Regions from separate parts of the Homo sapiens genome. Here region 1 is linked to region 2. Evidence: fine-mapped expression QTL. Tissue or cell type: whole blood. Region 2 holds a variant in brackets; the other region holds the start of a gene. All regions are shown on one strand. Distances are from middle to middle.

Region 1 (5,000 bases), 31 kb after region 2:
GAAGAGAATGAAAGATGTGGATAGTCAAGTAAGAAATATAACAAATCATCAATTAGAAATACACCCCAGCTGCTTCTAAGCATAATAAATTGTCAAAGCTTTCCATCAAGTGGAAGAAGACAGTCACAGTCAGATTTTGGAGAAGGCACATATTGAAAAATTCAACTGAACAATTAGTAGAAGCATTTCCTGTAGATTAGAAACCCTGCCCAGAACCACATCTGCCTTGAAACATATATAGCACATATTACGAAAGAACTGTTGTTACATTTCAATTTTCATCTGCAGACAAATTTAAGGTTAAAATGTAATATAGCCTTAAAGGTGACTGCTAGTTCAAACTTATCATTAGGCATATGGCTTCCTAACTCTTGATTATATGTTCGGAAAATTGCTAGGAAGGTTTCCATCTTATTGGTCAGATGGTATGTGAGTGTGACATATAACTCTTTGATGTGTGCTTTTCTTCTGGAATTTGTAGATAGTGCAGGATACTTAAATTTATTTTGCTTTTGTGAAGTAAGCAAATAACCTGACTTTAAACCTCAGTAAGGCTATTCAGCTAAATTCCATATATATCTATTGAAGATATATTACAGCAAGGCAGTGCGGTAGGGCCTGTCTCTTCCCTCAGGTTGCTGATAATCTCATGGCAGAGACATCTGTAAACAAGTTCTGAGGCAAGTGAGTGCTCACAGAATTATAAACAGGTTTGGGTAGTTTGGGGAGAGAAGTGAGTAAGAACAATAGCTGCCATCAGATATCATAAATTTGAAGTTTGATGATTTACTTTCAAGAATAAGGTTCCTGCCACTTAGTTTAGCTAGTTCTGGCCACATTATCTGCAGCTCCTTCCATCAAGAGGCAGAGACTATTTGCCTGCCCCTTGGATTTGGAGAGGCCTCACAATTTGCTTTGATTTGTAGAATTTGGCATATATGATCTTGTGTGACTCCCAAGTCTAGGCCTTAAGAAATTTTACAGCTTCTGCCTGCTCTCTTCTGGATGTTGCCCACAGACCAAAAACATAGCCTACTGCAGGATAAGAGGCCACATGGAGCCAACAGCAGACACATGAGTGAGGCCACCTTGGACTTTCAGCTTAGCTGATTCTCCAGTTCAGGGATCAGCAAACTACAGCCTGTAGGCCATAGCCTGCTTCTGTATGGCCCTTGAGCTATGAATAGCTTTGGGTTTTTAATAGTTTATAAAAATTAAATAAAAAAGAATATGTGACAGAGACAAAGTCTAAAATATTTACTATCTGATCCTGTTTTACAGAAAACTTGGCCAACCCCTGCTACAGCTGAATGTATCTATACGAGTGAGCCAAATCAAAACCAGAGAGGAACCACATAACCAACCTTCAGAATTATGAGAAATATTAAATTGACATTTTTGCAAGCAACTATATTTTGGGAGAGTTCGATCTGCAGCAATAGATGACTCAATCACAAGCTGATAAATGCTACACAAAGAAAAAGGAGACTGCTTCAAAGGAAATAATCTCATAAAGGTTTTGGGCCTTTTTGTCTCACTTACTTCATTTAGGAGAATTTCTTACCCCAATCTGTTGTCCATGGCTCTGCTTTGCATTCCAGGGAAGTTTTGGCAGCTATGAGCACATATACCTGCTGGTTACTCAAAGGACATTCAAAACATTTTAAAAATGAGTATTGAAATACAACTTTTCTAAAATTTTAAGAAACGGAATTTGTAAAATATAGTATTAATGCCCTAAAGCATTCTTCCAAATAAGAGGTCTATTTTTTCAGCATATTAATCTATCTGCAGTGAAACCTGTCTGGTTTTGTTATTAATGGACCTCCTTGACTTAGTGAGGTGAACTGTCAGCCCAGGTAGGGTGAAGAATGGCTGTGATAAAGGCGTGCAGCAGGGCAGCAATCACTTTACCCTCTGCAAAGGACACAGCTACCTGCCAAGGCTGGAACCAGGAAAACAATCTCAACCATAATTTAGATCTGATTATTATAATTTAGATCTGATTATTTATGCAGTGTCAACTAAGTCCTTGACTTACACTGCTACTATCTAAACTTACTTTTGTTGTATATCCATTTTGATCTCTATATTCACCCCTATTATTTTCAGAGAACCTTCAAACTATCCTAAGTAATTTTGCAGAAAAAGGCTATAAGGAAGAAGCAGTCAGGCCAAAGAGTCAGTAAACAAAAAGAAATGGTGGGCCACGTTTAGTCTTGATGCAAATGTGTGGGTTACAATCAGGGGTGGTGCTCATGGCTGAGCTTGGTAGTGGTTAAATACATGATCCAGACCCACTTGATTTTGAGGAAAGGACCAGTACAATCAATACTGCACATCTTGGTAAAAGGAGTTTGAGGAGATGGATCTGGGAGTTTAGGTCAGCTATGCTCAGGTGTACAAAAGCAACTCCCTGGGACTCCCATCCATACACAGGCCATTGAAACCTGACGTGTCTCTCTTACCCCCATTCCATTCCCCATCGATTCCGGAAGAAGAACTGGCATTTCTTCTGAGACAGCAAAGAACTCCTCCTAAGATTTCCTCTTTCCTAATTAGTTCTGTATGAAGTTTAACAAGAAAATCCCTCCAGGGCCGCCTCGAGGCCATGCACTCACGCAGTTTGGAAAGACGACCAGGGAAAAAGGATCTCAAACAAAAATTCTAGCTCGACGTCTGCCACTAAGTTGTCTAATTTTGGCCAGCATCAACTAAAGGCATACATAACACGGCCGTGCTCGGAATGCAAGGTGACCGCGAGGACCCAGAGGGCGCGCCATGCGAGCTCACAGGGCTGGGGGCCGCCTGGGCCCGCGCGTGCAGCCAGGGGCTTCCGGCCGCGGCCCTGGCGCGTGGTCTGCGCGCGCCCGGCCGTGCGTGCGGATGCGGGGAGGCTGCGTGTGTGCGCAGGGAGAGAACGCCGGCCACCTTCCCGCTTCCGAGCTGGGTGCGCGCCGAGCACAGGAGGTGAGTGAGAAGGGCGGCCCTGCAGGGTCTCCGAGGCGGTTGAGTCCTGCCACTGGGTGGAGGGTATAGCCACCGGACCCGCCTTTCCCGGAACGCGCCGTCCTCGGAAACGCCTAGACCCCGGCAGCTAGGCCGGGAGGCACCGCCCACTCCTCTAGAGCGGAGCGTGGCCCAGGTTGAGCCGCCGCACCGTGGGTCTCGGGTCTCGGTGACGAGCAGCTGCCCGCCTCCGGTGAGCGCGGGAGAAGGGGCCCAGTGGGGCAGTGGGCGACGCGGAGGGCCCAGGCCCAGGCCGCGGCCGCGCCGCATCCGCTGGTTGTCCACCTTGCCTTGCCCCAGGGTGCAATACCTGCCTTGCGTCGCCCGTGCCGCTCCAGCCACCGTCAAATCCGGGTAGCGACCCGGGGCGTTTGCAGCGGTGCCGAGGAAGAGGACGGGAACGGTGTTACGGTATTGGTGGGCCCCTAACAGGCCTGCGGCGAACGCTTTCCCGGAGCGCTAGGGAAGGGCCCCGGCGCAGGGATGTCGGAGGGATTGGGAAGGAATGTGAAACTAAGTGGGGAATGTGGAGAACGGGCGGAGAGAGAAGGAAATCCCACGGGGCTAGGGCTACAGGATTCCTACAGGCAGTGTTAAGGAACATACAGGGCGTTTTAAAAAGATTCCTAGAGGTGCAACGGAGTCTCACTTTTCCAAGCAGTAAGGAATGATGCCATCCTCAAGTACGGGTAGTCTTTGAATTCAGTATCCGTTCGCCTTCTTAATGTTGGATTTAGGAGGGAGATTTGCAGGGCTTTCATGATTTTGTTTCCTCTGCGTTTTGCACAGATTGCCTGCGTTTAGGAGGTGGCTGCGTTGTGGGAAAAGCTATCAAGGAAGAAATTGCCAAACCATGTCTTTTTTTCTGTTTTCAGAGGTAAGGAAAATTTGGGTTTGCAGTGTTCAACTGGGAACAAGTTTTTTAGCTTCTCCCAGGAGGCTTAAGCAAAAGAAGGGCGCTGAATTTGTGCTCTTAGTATGCATGTGTCGATGCCTGATAAAAGCACAAATTACTGAACGCGTATCAGTCTGGAGAACAGAATCGTTTATTACTAACAGATAAGAGACTATGACTTTTTTCCCCTCATAGACTAAAATGTTCGTTCAAATGAATGGCCATTGGATAACTCCAGACCTGAAAATAAACACTGTTGTCAAAACAGCATCCAGGCCGGGCGCGGTGGCTCACGCCAGTAATTCCAGCACTTTGGGAGGCCGAGGCGGGCAGATCACCTCAGGTCGGGAGTTCGAGATCGGCTTGGCCAACGTGGTGAAACCCCGTCTCTACTAAATATACAAAATTAGCTGGGTGTGGTGGCACACACCTGAAATCCCAGTTCCTCGGGGGGCTGAGGCAGGAGAATTGCTCGAACCCGGGAGGCAGAGGTTGCAGTGAGCCGAGATTGTGCCATTGCACTCCAGCCTGGGCAACAGAGTGAGACTCCATCTCCAAAACAAACAAAAAACAAAAAAACAGTGTCCAAGTATAATTTCAGATTAGAGCATGAGGTGATTTGAAAGCGAGAAGAGAGGATCAAGGCTTTTCCAAAAATGAAAAAAGTGTTGATATGTAATAAATGGCTCCAAAAACAACTTGCTAAGTATACAACATTGATTTTAGATGTCATAATTCCTAATGTTATGACTCATATATATTTTTTTCTGTTCTTCTGTTCAGTAGTTCACAACAGATCTGAGTGTTTTAATTAAGCATGGAATACAGAAAACAACAAAAAACTTAAGCTTTAATTTCATCTGGAATTCCACAGGTAAGTTCATCTACTTTTAACTTATAAATTATCCTAATTGGTTAAAAATGCCCATAATAATGCCCTTTACAAGGTTTTAAGTATCGTTGATGCAGCCACGAAGTTTGTTGTATATTCTAGTACGATTCTTTCATCAGAGGATTTGAAGAAATTCAAGAGTGAAGCTCTACTAAGCCATTTTGGATAATATATTTTTTTCTTTTTTCTTGCTTGAAAAATAGA
Region 2 (5,521 bases):
AGTTTATGTCTTTGCAGGGACATGGATGAAACTGGAAACCATTATTCTCAGCAAAGTAACACAAGAAGAGAAAACCAAACACCACATGTTCTCACTCACAAGTGGGAGTTCAACAATGAGAACACATGGACACAGGGAGGGGAACATCACACACCAGGGCCTGTTGGGGGGTGGGGGTCTGGGGGAGGGATAGCATTAGGAGAGATACCTAATGTAAATGATGAGTTTATGGGTGCAGCTAACCAACATGGCACATGTATACCTATGTAACAAACCTGCATGTTGTACACATGTACCCCAGAACTTAAAGTATAATAAAAAAAAAAGTGTAAAAAATATCAAGTAAGTTCTAGTCAAGTTTTGCCACCAAATGAGATAGTTGCAAACTTATGAAAAAAATAACTTTCCAAAAGCATTGGGATTTCAGAATTATTGACAGGTAATAATGTGAACCAATTATAAGGAGACAAGTGAGGACTGACTACATACTTTGTTAATGAATCGACTTATAGAGAATTTATGCCTGATGACCTCTACCCTTTGGAAACTATTTTTGTATCCTTGATAACTGGGGACATACCTGCTTTCTCCCCTTTGGCCTCAGGGGGAGGCAGTGTTTTGCCCTTTACCATTGTTCCCCAAGCACGGGCAGGCCCATTTCTTAATTTCCTAGGCATATCTGAGACTGGCTGGCAGGAAGCTTAGCACAATGAGTTACTTCCAATTGCTGTTAAAAATGACTTTGCTCAGGGCCGGGTGCGGTGGCTCATGCCTGTAATCCCAGCACTTTGGGAGGCCGAGGCAGGCGGATCATCTGAGGTCGGGAGTTCGAGACCAGCCTGACCAACATGGAGAAACTCCACCTCTGCTAAAAATACAAAATTAGCTGGGCGTGGTGGTGCATGCGTGTAATCCCAGCTACTCAGGAAGGCTGAGGCAGGAGAATCGCTTGAACACGGGAGGCGGAGGTTGCCAGGGGCCGAGATCGCGCCATTGCACTCCAGCCTGGACAACAAGAGCGAAACTCTGTCTCAAAAAAAAAAAAAAAAAAAAAAAAAATGACTTCGCTCCGATGCACCACCCCCAGTTCTGTATTTGAGACCAACCTCGATTGCCTCCCTATTTGACTCTCATCTATCTTCATGCCTCAAGGTTCTTGCCAGACTCTCAATAAGGACCTAAACAAGAAAAAGGGTCTCCTTTCCCTCTGGTTTCTGCTCTTCCTCCATCTCAATTTTTGCACACCAGTAATTTATAACTACTACTCAGGTGGATGATTGTGGAATTATGTCTCCTTTTAAAAGATGCACCACCCTAACCCTCAGTGTTATGGTTACCCTGAGCTCCACCTCTCAGGACAATTACAAATAACGGCCGCCAAATCAATAACAACATTGTGAGTTATCCAATCTTAGTGGGCATAACCACAACCCATGCTGTGCTAAACTGGACTAAGTCCAGGTCACTTTTTTAAAGCCCCATAGGATGATCAGGCATGCCTATCTCTACAGTAGCTTTAGGGCTTCTGCTCCTGATTCTCTGTGATTTACTACATAAAGAACATATACACATCTCCAGCAATAAAAAACCAACCCAAAACAATAAAAATCCAAATATAGAAAATAATCCTTTCTCCTGTGGAAGATACAAAGCTGCAGGGACTTGGCTTTGCTGCTGACAGACATGGATTTACATTACAAAATAAAGCACTTGGCTTAGCTTCTCAACCTAAGCACCTTTACTCGGGTGACTTCACTTTCTCTCAGGAACAATTGTTTTTGGTCTCTAGAGGTAGGAGTGTCCCAAAAGACATATATCCAAGATAGACAGAAGTCTCTTCTTTCAGTGAAGATTTGTGGTTGAAAAATCTCTTTAAAAAGCGCTTCTCCCATTTCTGGGCTATTACATGTTCATAAAGATCAGCATACTATCTCAACATATTTTGTGCATGTGTGCATATGCACATGCATGTGAGTGTGTACTATATTGTAATTGTACATGGAAAATAAAATTCTAAGCCCGACAGCTGACTGAATGGATCCACTCTTGGCCAAGGGGATCCCAGAGAAAGCTGAAAAACTATTTCAGCCTACGATGGGAATGGGGGGTAGTACATGGCTCCCCTTGGAGCTTAGGCACAACTGACCAGCATTAACACAAAAATAGAGATCATAAGATGAATAAGACAAACTCTTTGTAGCAATAAGATACTGAACTCCAACTTGATACTGGTATAGCATCACATGACAGATAACAGGCCCTAAATATATGTTTTAATTTCTTTCTTCCTTTGTTACTTTATTTTTCATTTATTTATTTATTTTTTAGAGACAGTATCCTGCTCTTGTCACCCAGGCTGAAATGCAGTGGCATGATCATAGCACACTGAACCCTCAAAGTCCTGGGCTTAAGAGATCCTCCCACCTCAGCCTCCTGAGTAGTTGGACGGCATATGCCACCATGCTCAATTAATTTTTAAAAAATTTTTGTAGAAATAGGGGTCTCATTATGTTGCTCGGGTTGGTCTCAAACTCCTGGCCTCAAGCCATTCTCCTGCCTCAGCCTCCCAAAGTGCTAGGATTACAGGCAAGAGTCACTGTAACTGGCCCTAAATATATTTCTTTGACATATTGTGGCATGGCCTTGCAAAGAGGTCCTTGTAGGGGAAATTTGCATTTTTCTTTTTTCTACATCACAAGTCATTAGAAAGAAAATGTGTATTCTGTAGAGAATCTCCTTCCTTTGCTACTAGGTCTTTTCTGGAGAGTAAGGTCTCCAGAGAAGAGATGTTTATAATCTATTTTCTCTGAAGCCTGGAGGCTTCATCTTCATACAAGAACCTTGGCTTCCACAACTCCCCA[A/G]TCTAACTCAAGCATTTCTTTATTCTGACTTCAACTCAACAAGCAGAGCTTAACTCTTTCAGCCAATTGCCAATAACAAAATATTTGAATCCACCTATGACTTAGAAGACTCCTCCCTCAGCTTCAAGATGTCCTGCCTTTCCAGGCTGAACAAATATATACCTTCCATGTATTGATTTATGCCTTTGCTTGTAACTTCTGTCTCCCTAAAATATGTAAAGCCAAACTGTAACCCAAGCACCTCGGGCACATGTTCTCAGAAGCTTCTTAGGCTGTGTCACTGGTCATGTCCTTAACCTTGGCAAAATCTCTAAATTGATTGAGACCTGCCTCAAATAATACTATTTGGTTTATGTAATTAATAAGTAATCTGTGGGCCAGGCGCGGTGGCTCACACCTATAATCCCAGCATTTTGGGAGGCCCAGGAGGGTGGATTTCTTGAGCACAGGAGTTCAAGACAAGCCTGAGTAATATGGCAAAACCCCATCTCTACAAAAAATACAAAAATTAGCCAGGCATGATGGCAGGCACCTATAGTCCTAGCTACTCAGGAGGCTGAGGTGGGAGGATCACCTGAGCCTGGGAGGTTGCAGCTGTGGTGAGCCATGATTGTGCCACTGCACTCTAGCCTGGGTGACAGTGTGAGACCCTGTCTCAAAAAATAATTAAATAAAAATAAGTAATTTGTGTGTGAGATACAATACTGTGAATATCATACTGCCCAATAATCCTCAAAAACCTTTCACTCAATAAGTTTAGCATCTACAGGTGATCTTGCCTGAATTATTCCAATGGTGGTTGAAAAATGGTGATTTTTCTAATTCTATAATTTCTTCTGTATTTTGTAGGCTGCAGTCTTTGAAAGAAGAGAGCTCACTTCCACTTCCACCTTTATTTTGAGTGTCACTATGGATTCATGGGTTCTTTTCTTATTTCAAGGTAATATAATCCATCACCATTATTATTCTTTTTGATGTTCAGCTTGTCACAAATTTAGCCAGTGGGAACAGCTTCAAGTCAACTCTTGTGTTCCCATCAATTTTGAGCACTTTCTTACTTTTGTGCGTAAGATGTTTCCAGCTTACTGTGAACCTCCCCTTTCCCAGACTTGAAATTAGCTATTGGAATGTTATTGCTTCTATGCTTTTTTTGGGAGACAAAGCTAGAAATCCAAAATTTTAAAGAATCATGAGTTAATACTGATACCTCTAATTCCAATGTCAACCTACAAGAAGAAGCTGAGGCAAAGTAGAGAGTTTATTTGGGCCAAGTTTGAGGACTGCAACTCAGGAGCATAGATTTAAGTTGCCCTGTATACATACTCCAATTAGCAGCAGTAACTAATGAGTTTTTAACGTAAAAAAGAAGAATCAGTTTCTAATTTTTTTAACCAAGAATTTGCATTAAAATAACATAATTTATTAACTATCATTGTTCCTTGCATCACACCTCCCAGGAATATGAACATAACAGGTGGGTGAAGCAGCAAATTAGAAACAAAATGCCTTTAAAGAACTGCCCCAGGCATGAACGTAGGAAGGAAGCATGGCTGAAATGCCATACTTATGTCTCTCTGGGCCTGATAAATTTTGTATTCCTCACATAACTCAGACTGCTCTGAGCTATATATTTTTTTCTTACTCCCTTCTCCTACAGTGAGGAAAGAACCCTGGTTTCCCACAATTTTCTCTATCTATAATACATTCAAAATAACTTCAGAATTTCTTCATTGATATTATTATTAAAAAAAATCACTAAACATCACGGAAATGCAAATCAAAACCACAATGAGATATCACCTCACTCCAGTTAAAATGACTACTATCAAAAAGGCAAAAAATAACAAATGCTGGCACGGATGGAGAGAAATGGGAGCTTTTACACAATGTTGGTGGGAAGGCAAATTTAACCATTATGGAGAAAAGTATGGAGGTTCTTCAAAAAACTACAAATAGAACTACCCTATGATCCAGCAATCCCACTACTGGGTATTTAGCCAAAGGAAAGGAAATCAGTATGTCAAATAGATATCTGCCCTCGTGTTTATTGAAGCATTTTTCATAATAGCCAAGATATGTGATCAACCTACATGTCCATCAACAGATGAATGATAAAAGAAATGTGGTATATATACATCATGGAATACTAGTTAGCAATTTAAAATAATAAAATTCTGTCATTCATGGCAATATGGATGACCTTGAAGGACATTCTGATAAGTGAAGTAAGCTAGGCATAGAAAGATAAATACCGTGACCAGGTGTGGTGGCTCACGCCTGTTATCCTAGCACTTTGTGAGGCCGAGGTGGGTGGATCACATGAAGTCAGGAGTTCGAGACCAGCCTTGCCAATATGGTGAAACCCCACCTCTACTAAATGCAAAAATTAGCTGGGCATGCTGGCGGGCGCCTGCAATCCCAGCTACTCAGGAGGCTGAGGGAGGAGAATCGCTTGAACCCAGGAGGCAGAGGTTGCAGTGAGCCATGGTGACGCCATTGCACTCCAGCCTGGGCAACAAGAGCAAAACTCCATCTCAAAACAAACAAATAAAAAAAGAAGTAGATAGTAGAATAGTGGTTACTAGAGGCTGGGAAAGGGTTTGGAAGAGGTCAAGGGGATAGTCAGCTGTTGGTTAACGCATGCAAGAGTACAGCTTGTT

Evidence for each region.
Region 1: B3GALNT1 starts here. The variant in region 2 is fine-mapped to the expression of B3GALNT1 in whole blood (TOPMed, PIP above 0.99). The same link has a PIP of 0.9 or more in blood mononuclear cells.

The regions. Positions count from the first base shown.
Region 1 is chr3:161,103,205-161,108,204 of GRCh38, reverse strand. B3GALNT1 (beta-1,3-N-acetylgalactosaminyltransferase 1 (Globoside blood group)) reads left to right here and starts at 2,856. Exons shown (of 5, transcript NM_003781.4): 1 at 2,856-2,970; 2 at 3,799-3,886; 3 at 4,688-4,778. It overlaps LOC124909453 (a long non-coding RNA gene), which reads right to left and starts at 3,524. Exons shown (of 2, transcript XR_007096147.1): 1 at 3,320-3,524; 2 at 1-1,634. RefSeq lists silencers at 2,952-3,041, 3,052-3,301.
Region 2 is chr3:161,133,676-161,139,196 of GRCh38, reverse strand. No RefSeq gene overlaps it. Among named protein-coding and RNA genes, the nearest start is that of B3GALNT1, 31 kb to the right of the region's middle. The variant A/G (reference allele first, on the strand shown) is at 2,862.